Homo sapiens: one gene and its partner. The protein of the gene in region 2 purifies or fractionates together with the protein of the main gene of each other region. This does not show direct contact. Each region holds a gene or a part of one and is shown on either strand. Other genes may lie near its edges.

Evidence for each region.
Region 1: the proteins of KLHL33 (region 2) and CCT6B purify together in Homo sapiens (affinity purification with mass spectrometry; 2 studies listed by BioGRID and IntAct, with this or other methods). This does not show direct contact.

Annotation. Positions count from the first base shown.
Region 1 is NC_000017.11:34,930,442-34,937,468, reverse strand, and holds part of CCT6B (T-complex protein 1 subunit zeta-2), read left to right. Parts: intron 1-4,968; coding exon 4,969-5,102; intron 5,103-6,417; coding exon 6,418-6,520; intron 6,521-7,027. UniProt on the Homo sapiens protein: Component of the chaperonin-containing T-complex (TRiC), a molecular chaperone complex that assists the folding of proteins upon ATP hydrolysis.
Region 2 is NC_000014.9:20,433,151-20,440,085, reverse strand, and holds the start of KLHL33 (kelch-like protein 33), read left to right. Parts: upstream 1-3,919; 5' UTR 3,920-3,987; exon of another isoform or gene 3,988-4,134; intron 4,135-4,255; 5' UTR 4,256-4,274; coding exon 4,275-5,022; intron 5,023-6,935.

The sequences.
Region 1 (7,027 bases), on a different chromosome or scaffold from region 2:
CACCACCGAATTGCCTTTTCTCGTGTATAAAAAATCAGTTTTTCATATTTGTGTGGTTCTATTTCTGTGCTCTTTTTTCTGTCCTACTGATGCATTTGTCTATTTTAATGTTAATATCATACTGTCCTGACGACTGTAGCTTTATAATAAATCTTGAAATCAGTATTGTTAACTCTCATTTTTTTTTTAAGTTATTTTGGTCATTCTAAGTCTTTGGCATTTCCATATGACTTCCATATGAATTTTAGAATCAGCTTGTCAATTTCTACCAAAAAGACTGCTGCTGGGATTTTGATCAGAACTTTTTTTTTTAGAAAGGATCTTACTCTGTCACTCAGGCTGGAGTGCAGTGGTGTGATCATGGCTCACTGCAGACTTGACCTGCTGAGCTCAAGTGACTCTCCCACCTTAGCTTCCCAAGTAGCTGGAACCACAAGCATGCACTACCATGCCTGGTTAATTTTTTTTTATTTTCTGTAGAGACAACGTCTCATTATGTTGTTACCCAGGCTGGTCTCAAACTCCTGGGCTCAAGCGATCCTCCCGCCTTGGCCTCCCAAAGTGCGTGGATTACAGGTGTGAGCCATTACACCCTGCTTGATTGGAATTTTATTAAATCTGTAGACCAATTTGGAGATAGTTGATATTTTAATAATGAGCCTTCTAACTCATGAATATCATCTTATCTATTTGAGTCTTCTTGAATTTATCTCAGCAATATTTCATAGATCTTAGTATATGAGCCTCACATACTTTTTTCCATATTTATCTCTATATATTTTATGTATTTTGTTGCTATTGTATATGCTATTTTTAAAATTTCCATTTCTGATTGTTAGTTGCTAATATATAGAAATATATTTTATTTTTGTACATTGATCTTGAATTCTGCAACCTTGCTAAATCACAATTAGCTTTCTTATAGGCTTCATTGAATTATCTATATAAGTGATTACATTGTCTGCTATACAGTTATACTTTTTGCTCTCCAATATGGATATTTTAAAATTTTCTCCCTTATTTCATGGGCCAGAACCTCCAGTATAATGTTGACTAGAAATAATGAGAATGGACATCCTTTCCTCATCGCTGATCTTAGGGGGAAAGCATTCAATCTTTCTCCATTATGTATGATGTTAGCTATAGGTTTTTATCAGGTTGAGGAAGTTCTCCCTTCTGCACCTAGTTTGCTGACAGTTTTTAATCAAGAATAAATGCCAGGCTGGTCGTGGTGGCTCACACCTGTAATTCCAGCATTTTGGGAGGCTGACGTGCATGGGTCACCTGAGGTCAGGAGTTCAAGACCAGCTTGGCCAACATGGTGAAACTGTCTCTACTAAAAATAAAAAAATTAGCTGGGCATGGTGGCAGGCACCTGCAATCTCAGCTTCTCGTGAGGCTGAGGCAGGAGAATTGCTTGAACCTGGGAGGTGGAGGTTGTAGTGAGCCGAGATCGTGCCACTGGACTTTAGCCTGGGCGACAAGAGTAAAACTTCTTGTTGTTGTTGTTTTTTGTCAAAACACACACACACACACACACACACGAGAATAAATGCCAAATGCTTCTTGTGCATCTATTGAGATGATCATATGATTTTTTTTTTTTTCTTTTGAGATGAAGTCTCACTTCGTTGCCCAGGCTGGAGTGCCATGGCGCAATCCTGGCTCACTGCAACCTCTGCTTCCCAGGTTCAAGCGAATCTCCTACATCAGCCTCCTGAGTAGGTGGGATTACAGGCATGCACCACCATGCCAGGGTAATTTTGGTATGTTTCAGTAGAGATGGAGTTTCACCATGTTGGCCTGGCTGGTCTCGAACTCCTGACCTCAGGTGATCTGCTTGCCTTGGCCTCCCAAAGGTCTGGGATTACAAGCCTGAGCCACTGCACCCAGCCCTCGTTTAGTTTTCTCGTACAGTAAATTACATTGATTGATTCAAATGTCAAACCTTACATTCTTGGGATAAACCATACTTAGTTATAATGCATTTTACTTTTTAAAAAATTAATGGATTACATTTTTTTAAAATTATTTTTTAAATTGTGATAAATATACATAACATAAAATTTACAGTTTAACAATTTTTAAGTGTACAGTTCAGTGTTAGTAAGTGCATTCACAATGTTGTCTAACCATTATCACCACCCATCTCCAGAACTTTTTTTCCTTGCAAAACTGAAACTCTGAACCCATTAAACAATATCTCTCCATTCCCTACCCACCTCCCCAGCCCTGGGTAACCACCATTCTACTTTCTGTCTCTATGAGTTTACTCTATGTATCTCATATAATTGGAATCATACAGTTTTTGTCCTTTGTCTGGCTTATTTCACTTTGCATAGTGTCATCAAGGCTCATTCATGTTGTAGCATGTGCCAGAATTTCCTTCCTTTTTACCATTGAATAATATTCTATTGTATGTATATACCACATTTTATTTGTCTATTATTGGAAACGTGTTGCATTTACCTTTTGGCTATTGTGAATAATGGTACTATGTGTATTCTCCTTTTTATGTATTATTTGATTTAATTGGCTAAAATTTTGTTAAGAATTTTTACATATGTATTCATAAGGGGTATTGGTCTGTGTATATTTTTTCTTGTAATGCTTTTATCTTTTTTGGTGTTAGAACAATGCTGTACTCATAGAGTGAATTGGAAAGTTTTTCTTCTTGTTCAAATTTCTGAAAGTGTAAAGTTGTTGTGGAGAATTGGTATTATTTGTATTATTTCTTTCTTAAATGTTGGTAGACTGTCAATAAAGCCATCTGAGCCTGGAGTTTTCTTTGTGGGAAAGCTTTTAATGACACATTCAATTTTTTTAATAGACGTAGGGCTATAAAGGTTTTGTTTTTTTTGAGTGAGCTTTAGTGGTTTGTAGTCTTTCAAGAATTTGTCCACTTCATCTAAGTTAGGATCATCAACTACTATCTATGAGCTAAATCTGATTTGCTGCCTGTTTTGGTAAATAAAGTTTTGTTGGAATGTGGCCATACTCATTTGTCTATATATTGTCTGTGGCTATTTTTGTGTTACAGTGGCAGAGTTGAATAGTTGGAAAAGAAATGGTATGGCCTGAAAAATATTAACTGGCCTTTTGCAGAAAGTTTACTAACTTCTGATCAACAGTTTCAACTTTATTGTCATAAAGTCGATCATAATATTCATTTGTTATTCTTTTTAATATCTGTAGAATCTGTAGTGATATAAATTTTCTCATTTCTGACATTTGTCATTTGACTAATTTCCACTTTCATCCTAATTATTTCCTTTCTTTTGCTTATATTAGGTTTCATTTGTGCTTCCTTTTTTAGTTTTTTTTTTTTTTTTTTCTTTTTGAAACAGAGTCTCGATCTGTCACCTAGGCTGGAGTGCAGTGGCATGGTCACGGCTCACTGCAGCCTTGACTTCCCAGGCTCAGGCAGTCCTCCCACCTTAGCCTCCTAAGTAGCTGGGATTACAGGTGTGTGCCACCAAACCTGGCTAATTGTTGTGTTTTTTGTAGAGATGGGGTCTCACTGTGTTGCCCAGGCTGGTCTTGAATTTCCGGGCTCAAGTGATCTACCTGCCTTGGCCTCCCAAAGTGCTGGGATTATAGGAGCGAGCCACCAGACCCTGTCCTTTTCTAGTTTCTTAAGGTGGAAGCTGGGGTCATTAGTTTGAGAACTTTCTTCGTTCCTAATATAGGTGTTTCGTGATATAAATTTCTCTTTAAGTACTGCTTTAGGGATGCTAAAATTTTGATATGTTGTGTTTTCACAGAGAATGGGATCAGGGAAGTTTTCAAAGGTTCTAGTAATCTCTTTCTTAAGCTGGGTGGTAGGTACATGGATACATTTGTTTATTTGTGCATTTATTCTTTATATCATACATATAAATATTCTTTTGAGTATATTCTGTATTTAACAAGGAACTTTTAAAAAATGTGAATGGGAGGTAATGATGTAATCATCTGGTGGGTAAACAACTCTTTGAGCGGTTATGTTGTGAAGTGAAGCAGTGAAAGGGGGTAGTAATTTTAAAATGATGTGAGATAAAAGGGGAGATTGTTTTCGTATTGTTTTGTTTTAAAGCAAGTTTTCTGATTTAAATAAGAGTCATAAACTTTATGAAACCATACAAGTAGCAGATATAAAAGTGATATCCTGATGTGAAATTTGATGTGTTTAACCAAAACTCTTGCTTTAGAATAATACCACTTAAATTTTTTCTTAGATAGCAGTTTGAGTTCTGCTGCAGTACAAAAAACAAATACTTCATTGAGTTCCAAGAATTCCCTATCAAAAACTAGACAAATGATCTTGGTCTAAAGAATTTTCATGTCAGATATTGTAATCAGTTACCTGTCAATATAAATTATAAATACCTCTTAAAAGTAGTCATAAGGCCGGGTGTGGTGGCTCACACCTGTAATCCCAGCATTTTGGGAGACGGAGGTGGGTGGATCACTTGAAGTCAGGAGTTCAAGACCAGCCTGGCCAACGTGGTGAAACCCCATCTCTATTAAAAATACAAAAATTAGCTGGGTGTGGTGGTGCACGCCTGTAATTCCAGCTACTTAGAAGGCTGAGGTAGGAGGATCACTTGAACCTGGAAGGCAGAGGTTGGAGTGAGTCAAGATCATGCCACTACAGTACAGCCTGGGTGATGGAGTAAAACTCCATCTCAGAAAAAAAAAGTAGTTATAAAAGAGTAAGATGAAGGTAAAAATAAATTATTCTTGTTTACCAGAGGGTAAGGAGCAAAATAAGCTGTTTGCAGCCAGTTATCTGTACTATGCCTATTTATTTAATGACATATAACTTCAGGATGTTTCATAAGATAACTGAGTAATTACTAAGCTGTGCAATTTATTTGGTTTCTGTAGATAATAGAACATACTTAAATAGTGAATTGCTTTTCTGTCTCTCTCTCTCTTTTGGTCTTTATGGCATGTCTTGCCAATCATATTTTTTCTCTCCAATAGGTTGTATGGTTCCTGGAGCTGGTGCAATTGAAGTGGCAATGGCTGAAGCTCTTGTTACATATAAGAACAGTATAAAAGGAAGAGCTCGTCTTGGAGTCCAAGCTTTTGCTGATGCCTTACTCATTATTCCCAAGGTACAACTACCCTTTCGGCCAAATAACAACTGCTTAGACATAAAGGTGTTTAATTACAAATTGCCCATATTATCTGATAGTTAATGGAGTAGACAGGTATTTATGTGCATTTCCTTACACAGTTTTCTCTTAGATATTTTACAACTAAAGCAGGGAAACTTTTGCGATAACAGCCCAGGATCCTTGCACGATCTCATGAAATAGCCAACTTACCCCCTTGCTTCTTTCTCTGAGTTCCAAAAATTAAAGCAGCTCCAAAAATTTCCTTCAGAAATGACTCATGATTAACTAATCATAATGAAAAAGTTTAGAATTTAAAATTTAGTTAGATTTTGTGGTACATCTTTGTTTTGTTAGTGGTATCCAAATGTAATCAATTTAAATTGTGGAGAGGGAGGGCTTGAGGCTCTTTAGCACTCCTAGATACAACCTTACATTTGTCATCATCATTATAATTCCTAGAAAAAGAGAAAACAGAATTTTTCCATGTGGCAACCTAAGGACAGAAAGCGACCATTCCTTTGTCTTTGCCTTAATTGGTTTCAAACCACCTTAGAAATATAGTAAAACTACTTCAAAGATGCTATTACCATGAATTAAAACATTATTAACAATGTTAGCAAAATCTCTTTGCTAATTTTTATTAAAATTTTTCATAATTTGTGAAATCTTTGTGAATTAGATTTGCTATTTTTTCTTTCCCCAGAGCAGCAAAGTCAGTATGATCCTGCTGCTGACAGAAATTGGTAACCCCAGTACACATTACATTGGTGGTACCTTTTTCCTCATCAGCTGGTGATTTGGGGCCACTTGGAAGTGAGCCTGGTTTGGAGTGCAGGTATCTCCAACCCTGTTACCACAGGTCGTGACTCTCCTCATGAAGATGAGGGGCACAAAGGTGCTGCAAATATTCTGGTTTCCTTAGCAAGTGCCTATGAAGAACTGGAGGGCATGTGGCTAGCGGCACTAGAGGAAACAAGAATATCATTCTACTTCCTTCCATACTAAAAACAAAACAAAACAAAACAAACCTTTTGCAAGGAGGGAAATTAATGTAGTAGGGTAAAAATGGGGGAACTCTGATGTCCTCAGAATTTAGTGTGACGTGCATAGGGGAAATGTTTAAGTAAATATAAAAACTACTAGATAGATGAAATAATAATTTGATTTAGATTAAAAGTGGAATTCTTCAAAAGGAGATGATTGCCATGTTATGGATGTGTTTTTACAAGAGTAAAGAGTATTTTTATATTTGATATATGTGAAGGTATTATGCATATATATATAATATATATTATTATTTTTATTCCTAAAGGTTCTTGCTCAGAATGCTGGTTATGACCCACAGGAAACATTAGTAAAAGTTCAGGCTGAGCATGTCGAGTCAAAACAACTTGTGGGCGTAGATTTGAATACAGGTAAGAAAGTGAAGGAAAATTAGCTGCTTAATAAAGAGGTTATTCTTTAGTTACCCAGATCTTATGGTAAAGGAGTAGAGGTTTGGGTAACTTTAATATTTAAATTTTGGATGCCTTTAGTTTATTTTTGAGCTTCTTAAAAAATGTTCATTCATTTAAGAAATAGTTATTGAGTGCTTGTTTTCCTCTTGGGCTTCACACAGAACAAAACAGACAAAAATATCTGCCCCTGGGAGCTTATGTTGTAGTGGGAGAAGGTAGGCAGTAAATAATAACTTTAATAAATAAACTCCTTCAGCATTTTAGAAAAAGTAATGAATTATATGGAAAAAAGAGTGCTATAATAATGATCATGAATGCTAGTACAGGAGGGTGGAGAGAGAATGACAGCTTAAAGGGTTGGTCAGGGTAGGCATCATCTAGATGTCTGTTGAAAAAAAGTGGAAGGAAGTGAGGAAATTAGCCATGTAGGCAACTGGGGTTAAGTGTTCTAGGGAAAGAGAACAG
Region 2 (6,935 bases):
GGCAGAAAGGATAGGAGTAGAGGGAGTAGGGGGTGGTAAGATCCCTGGGAATGAGGGATGGGAAAAACTGAGAGTGGGGAGGTAGATAGATGAGTGACACCGGGCCAGGCCTGGGGGCTCACGCCTGTAATCCCAGCACTTTGGAAGGCTAAGGCGGGTGAATCACAAGGTCAGGAGTTCGAGAACAACCTGGCCAACATAGTGAAACCCCATCTCTACTAAAAATATAAAAATTAACTGGATGTGGTGGCACGTGCCTGTACTTGGGAGGCTGAGGCGAGAGAATCACTTGAACCTGGGAGGCGGAGGTTGCAGTGAGCCGAGACCATGCCATTGCACTCCAGCCTGGGTGACAAAGTGAGACTGTGTCTCAAAAAAAAAAAAAGAGTGACACCTTCCCCATACTTTCCCTTGATTTACAGGCAGACTTTGAATGTTGCTATGTGGGCTTGGATTATCTCTTTAAACATTAGCCAGCCACAGTCATCTCCATCTCCCAAAGTTACCTTCTAACTCCCAGTTGCTGAGAACTGAGCCGTCTTTTGCCCCTCCTCAAAAATTATACACTTGGGATGACCGTGTCTACTAACATTCTTTCCTTTCTCTTGCAAGCCTCTTGCTAAGATCTCAACTAGCCTGGAAGATATTAGGGGCTGAAACAAAGCAGGAAAGGGTACAGAACAGAATGGCTCTCAAGATTCCAGCAGACATCAGAGGGCTAAAGGCAGACACCATGTTCATGGTCTGAGGAAAAGGGCAGACAGAGGCAAAAATCAATGCCTTTCCAAAGTAATGCATTCCACCCGTATTTTCACCTAGTTTTCCCAGACTTATTAAAATTTATCTGCATCTTTGAAGGTTTTGCCCCAAATTAATCAACTTAAACATCTATGCTATGCCAGGCAATGGGCAAGGTTTCTCTCTCTACACTTCCGCTCTGGTTCACTCACCTCATAGTGATTAGAGAGCCCACAGAGGCAGGACCCTTGCTCTCGACAACTGCTGAAATCCCAGCCATACTGGCACTTTGCGCCCAGGCGGCTCCCATTCTGCACACCCATGTCAGTCCTATTTTCGGAAGCACGTTGAATCATACAGGAGCCTAGAAATGAGATTGAGGATACACATTTCTTCATGGGAAGAAAACCCCATCCCAAAGCAGTAGGGCTATCTAGGTACCACCAGTACCAAAAGGGGAAATGAAAATGTTTGTGTGGCAGGGGTTGGGGGAGTGAGGAAATGACCAAATGTGATCATCGAAGAACACCATACAATTCATTAACAGATATGAGGGATGGGGAAACATGAAGGGAGGAGCGGGAGTCACTACAGACTCACCAGCCTTGATTTTGCCGTTGCTGGAGATGGCTGAGATAGACAATCCAGTGACAGTATGACTGAGGCCAAGAACAGGATGATGAGCCATGTGAGCCCTGGGGTGAGGATGGGAATTTATTCATACATGCACATCCCTTCCTACTGCCCAGGAGAGCTCTGAGCTCATACCTGTGCCTGCCTGAGCAGCGATCCAAGGCAGCTGCAGGTAGAGAATGATGCCCCAGATATTGAGCATACAGCAAATCTGGGGAGCGGGGTGGTAAGGGAGGGGTTGCAGTCTCCAGTGTGAGTCCCACCCCTTGCCCCCTTCTTCAGAGGTACCTCCCAAAAACTCCCCTGGAGCAAAGAGTTCTCGCCTGCCTAGATCCCCAGACTTAGGGAACCATGAGCGCCAATCCATTACCATGACTCCTATGACCCAGCTGAAGTGCACTGGGGCCTTGCCGATTTTGGCCCCAGAATTCTCCAGATCATCTTGGGAGTGTGGCTGGGTGTGGGTTTCCTCTCGAGGTGGACGTGGCACTATTTCTTGGCTGGGACAGCACATACATAACTGAAATGCCAAGACCCCTTGCTAGCCAGCGCGTCTGCAACCAGGAGGACAGCTAATGGACCTGGAGGGCAGTCCCAGAGCTACATGAAGGGTGGTGGTAGCCCACAGGCAGATGTTATCCTACCTTCAGGAGTTCACTGTGGGGCCTGGGTCTTACCAAGCTGTATGGAGCCATCCCAGGACTACGGAGTTGGCATAGAACTCGTAGCAGGGTCCAGTGTCCTCATCCTTGTAAGCAGTTGGTGAACAGAGGCTGGCTCGGGGTATGTCTCCACCAGATTGCAGTTCCTCCAACTCCTGGTTGGGGGCCAAGATGCTGGCCACATTGTCTTGCTCTGGGGAGGACATGAGAGGCATTCGAAATGTCTGAACTGGGAAACAGGGTGCAGAGCCTGGACACTATCTCCCCATTTGCTGGCCAGGATAACCATAAACTGCCTCTCAGTCGAACCATTTTGGGGAGTGCACCTGCTGGCTAGGCTCACCCAGGGAATGCTAGCTACTCAGAGTTGCCAGGGGTACCCAGGCCACAAATGGGGAAATGGAGACAACTCTGAAAGTAGGAGGGGGTGCTGTGCAGGTCAGCCCACTTCCCACCCTACCCCGCCCTCCACATGAGCCCTTTCATCTGAATCACAAGGAGCAATCGTTCCTCCTTCCCTTATTAAGTCTGCCTGTGGAGTCAACCTATCCAGCCTGGACCAGACATTTTATAGGCCAGGAAGTAGGAGTCCTTGGCCTGTCCTACCTCCCCCAGAGAAGGGAGAGGAAGTGTGTCACTGCACCTTTCCCTAAATCCTTTCTGCAAGATGACACTCAAAACTGCGGCACAAAGTGATTGCCTGGCTTTTAGGGGCTTTAGTCTAGCACTTGGCCTCAGGATGAGAAAGGAAGTGTTGTCCTGGAGGGAGAAGGAGTGGCTGTTACCGTCTGGCTCAAATGGAATACTTGCATGTCCATAGCCCATCTAGTCCAGGACTCTGGTCCTCACAGCATGCAGATCAAGCACACCTTCCACTGTCTGGTTCTTATCCCAGTGCCAAGATGAGAGTTAGAATTCCCCACACTTTTCCAAAGACACAGGGTTGGATTTCAGGCTCTTACCCTGGACCCCACCTCTGGACAGATAGTAATCCCTGTGTGGGGTGAGCCACCTAGGTCCGTAGCCCTGCCCCCTGGCCCTTCACTTTCCCCACTCTTCTGCCCTCCATGAATAAAGCTGGGCTATATTCGCTCCTGGGTCCCAGCTTTTTTGTTTTTTGAGACAGGGTTTTGCTCTGTCACCCAAGCTGGAGTGTGTGGTGCGACCTCAGCTCACTGCAACCTCTGCCTCCTGGGCTCAAGTGATCCTCCCACCTCAGCCTCCTAAGAAGCTGGGACTAAAGATGTGCCCCACCATGCCTGGCTCATTTTTGTATTTTTTTGTAGAGATGGGGTTTCACCATGTTGCCCAGTTTGGTCTCAAACTGCTGGCCTCAAGTGATCCATCCGCCTTGGCCTCCCACAGTGCTATGACTACAGGCATGAGACACCACGTCCAGCTAATTTTTGTAATTTTTGGTAGATATAAAAAATATGGAGTTTCATCATATTACCCAGGCTGGTCTCAAATTCCTGGGCTCCAGTGACTCACCCACCTTGGCCTCCCAAAGTGCTAGGATTACAGGCAAGAACCACCATGCCCGGCGGGGTCCCAGCTTTATCATGCACAGAAAAGTCAACAGCCAAAGCCTGGTCCAGACTCTTTGCCTGATCCTTCCAGCCCACTCTAGTGGCCCAGCCCTTCTGGCCTTGGGCTCATTCCACCAGATCCCCTCATTCTCCTTGGTTTCCTAATTTGCCTAGCTCAGCACACTCCTGTATGACCTACAGGTGGAAGGGTGGGGATGTCAGTCTGGGAGGGAGCCCAGGGGATTGGGTGTCAGAGTTAGGACACCAGGTGCCAAGTGCCTAGCCAGCCAGGACTGGCTATAATTAGCCCCATGGGGCCACTGGCTGACTGGGATGCCATGTGGGCAAGTTCCCTCTGCCACGCAGCCCCAAGCACAGCGGGCGCTTAAGTGAGAGGGCAAGCGGAACGCTGGTGTCTCCTGAGGGTGACTAAAAGGATGGGGGCAATAGGGGAGGGGTGTGGTCCCGGTTACCGGATCTTTACAGGGCTTCTTGCATGTTTCACTGCACCGCGTGCACCCTATAGCTGTCCTGTATATCCCAGATACTCCAGTGCTGGGATGTGGCTGAGGGTAGGAGGAGGGTGTTGGAGCAGGGGAGAGACTGACATTTCAACTGGCTGGAGACATGGTTGCTCTGGCCTCTTTGGGCCCAGCTCTGACGCCAGGCTGTCTTGCCTCTGCTCACCTGCAGCTATCCAGCAAACCTCGGCATGAGCGTCTCGGACACCCCACATTATCCCCCTGAGCTGGAGAGTGTCTCTCATCCCGTCCAGAGGGACTGCCTTGGACTCCTTGTGCACGCCCAGAGAACCCCTTCCTGGCCTCCCTCCCCCGACGAGGATCCCAGATTGCCTTCCTTTCCTCTGGAGGAGCCTGGTTCCAGGCCCCTGGTCCCAAGGAACCTTCCCTTTCCAGCCTTGTCCCTAGAGGAAGAAGAGGAAGAGGAAGAAGATGAAGATGCGGCAGAGCCCGAGTGGCTGCGCAGCGAGGAGCATCCGAGCCAGTTTTTCGCCGAGGCCCAGCGGCTGCGGGAGCAGAGACTGTTGCTGGACGAAGAGGTGTCAGTCGCGGGGCGGGTATACGGGGTGCATCGGGTGATCCTGGCCGCAATCAGCAGCCTCTTCCGAGACAGGCTGCTGGGCGGCGGAGGTCCGCGGCCCCCCTTCAGCCTCGAGGTGTCCCCAGGGGGCTGGGAGGCCGTGCTGACCTTTGCCTATGAGGGGGTGCTGGGCCCCGCCTCGCAGGGGGATGTGCTGGCCGCAGCAGAGGCGCTGGGAGCGCCCCGGGTGAAGGCTGCTGCCCAGCAGACATGCGAGAGGGCTGGAAATGCCAGGGAAGATGTAAAGAAGCCCAGCCAGGCAGAGGAGCTGAGGGAGAACCTGCGCGGAATCGAGCTCCTCTACCGAGAGGGCGTCGGGTGTGACTTGAAGCTGGAGGCAGGCGGCTGCCAGCTGTCGGGTGAGGGCCTGTGGGGCATTAAATTACTGCAGGTGCATATGCTAACGGAATGGTGTGTGCAAGCAGCAGGTGGTTTTATCCCCACCATGATGGTTTTGATCCCTGCTGCTGTCAGAATTTCCCTGGGGTGGCCTTTGGTGCCTCTCCTGCCCCACGGAGAGCCGGGCATGCGCAGTCGAGTTGTTTTCTAGGCGCTCTGACAGATTTAAACTGACCCTCTGTCTGGCTTTTCCTGTGTCCAGTAACAAGGAATCTCCAGCCAGCTGGCTAGAGCTAAGGGTACAATCCATGGCAGTAGAACAAGCAGAAAGTGGATTGACTCAAGCAGAAATTAACAAAAGGCCCTTCTTGGCATCCTCCATTCAGGACACAGGAAAGCCAGGGGAACATGGTGGAAAACTCAATGTGTGCTTTCACCTTGGTGTGCTTGACGCCATGGCTGACTTATGGGCCCTGCAGCTAATGAGCAAGGTCTGGTACTGTTTAAGGTTACCAGGCCGTGGCACTTTTTTTTTTTTTTTCTGAGACAGCATCTCACTCTGTTGCCCAGGCTGGAGTGCAGTGGCACAATCTTGGCTCACTGCAACCTGCACCTCCTGGGTTCAAGTGATTGTCCTGCCTCAGCCTCCCGAGTAGCTGGGATTACAGGCACCTGCCACCATGCCTGGCTAATTTTTTTGGTATTTTTTTAGTAGAGATGGGGTTTCACCAGGTTGGCCAGGCTTGTCTTGAACTCTTAACCTCAGGTGATCCACCTGTCTCATGCTGGGATTACAGGCATGAGTCACTGCACCCGGCCTGGCCATGGCACTTTGAAGTTAACTCTGCTCATCACCAGGAAAGCTAAGTAGGGTTGCATAAGTTGAGTATTATTCGGAGTCTACTAACATTTAGTGAGGCACTGGGTACCTGAAATTTTTACACATGACATCTCTTTTTAAATTTTACTGAAAGCTGGTGAGGTCAATATCATTATCTACAGGTGCACATAAGGAACATTAAATTTGGAGATGTTGACTTGGGACAACCCCAGGATACAAGCCTACATCACTAGTCCAGTCTCCTTCCACTAGGCCATGTGGACACATTGAAAGTTTAAAATTACAAGGGATTAGTTTAGAGATTATCTAGTTGGGCTGTTACACTTTGATGATGACGAAATCAGAATCCAAGACTTGTCCAAAGTCACATAGCTACTGCCCATTAGAGGAGTGACTGGGAACTGAAGTGCTTCTGGGACTCCTAGAAGGAAAACCACTCCAAAAGTCTATTTTCATTTATGATAGCACTAGATGGAGAGGGGATTTAAATTTTTCATAATCATAAAATTCTCACTAGGCTTTTGAATTTAAGCATACTCATATCACTGCTTTTATTTCCCTAGGAAATATTCCTACTTAATGGTTGCGAATCTGTCACTTAAAATCCTAGGGTATAGTAATGAGTAAGAGGTGAATACAAGTGGCTGTGAGCCCTTTCAGGGTTGGCTCTGAACTATAGGTTGATTGATGATATGGGAGCTGAGATGGCTTAGCTTGTTTTGAGGAATGCAGATTTTCTCAGACAATATATATTTGAAATCTGTCATTGATGTTTACTACTTGGGAAGCACCAGGCCACTACCTACTGCTTAAAAGACAGTGGAAAGTCATATGAACAACACCTGCCCTTTGGGAAAGGCACGCATGCCTCAGTTGGTCAAAGCAGCATGGAGTTCTTAAACAGCTTGGCCCTCTGTGACCTGCCTAAAAGGACTTCTAGGAGCATTACCCCCCACCTTTTTATTATGAAGCATTTTACAAAACCAAGAATATTAAGATGAACATTCAAACAACACCCATCACCCAGATTTAACAACTAATATTTTACTATATTTATTTCATCTGTTCATTTTATTTTTTACTGAAGTTTAA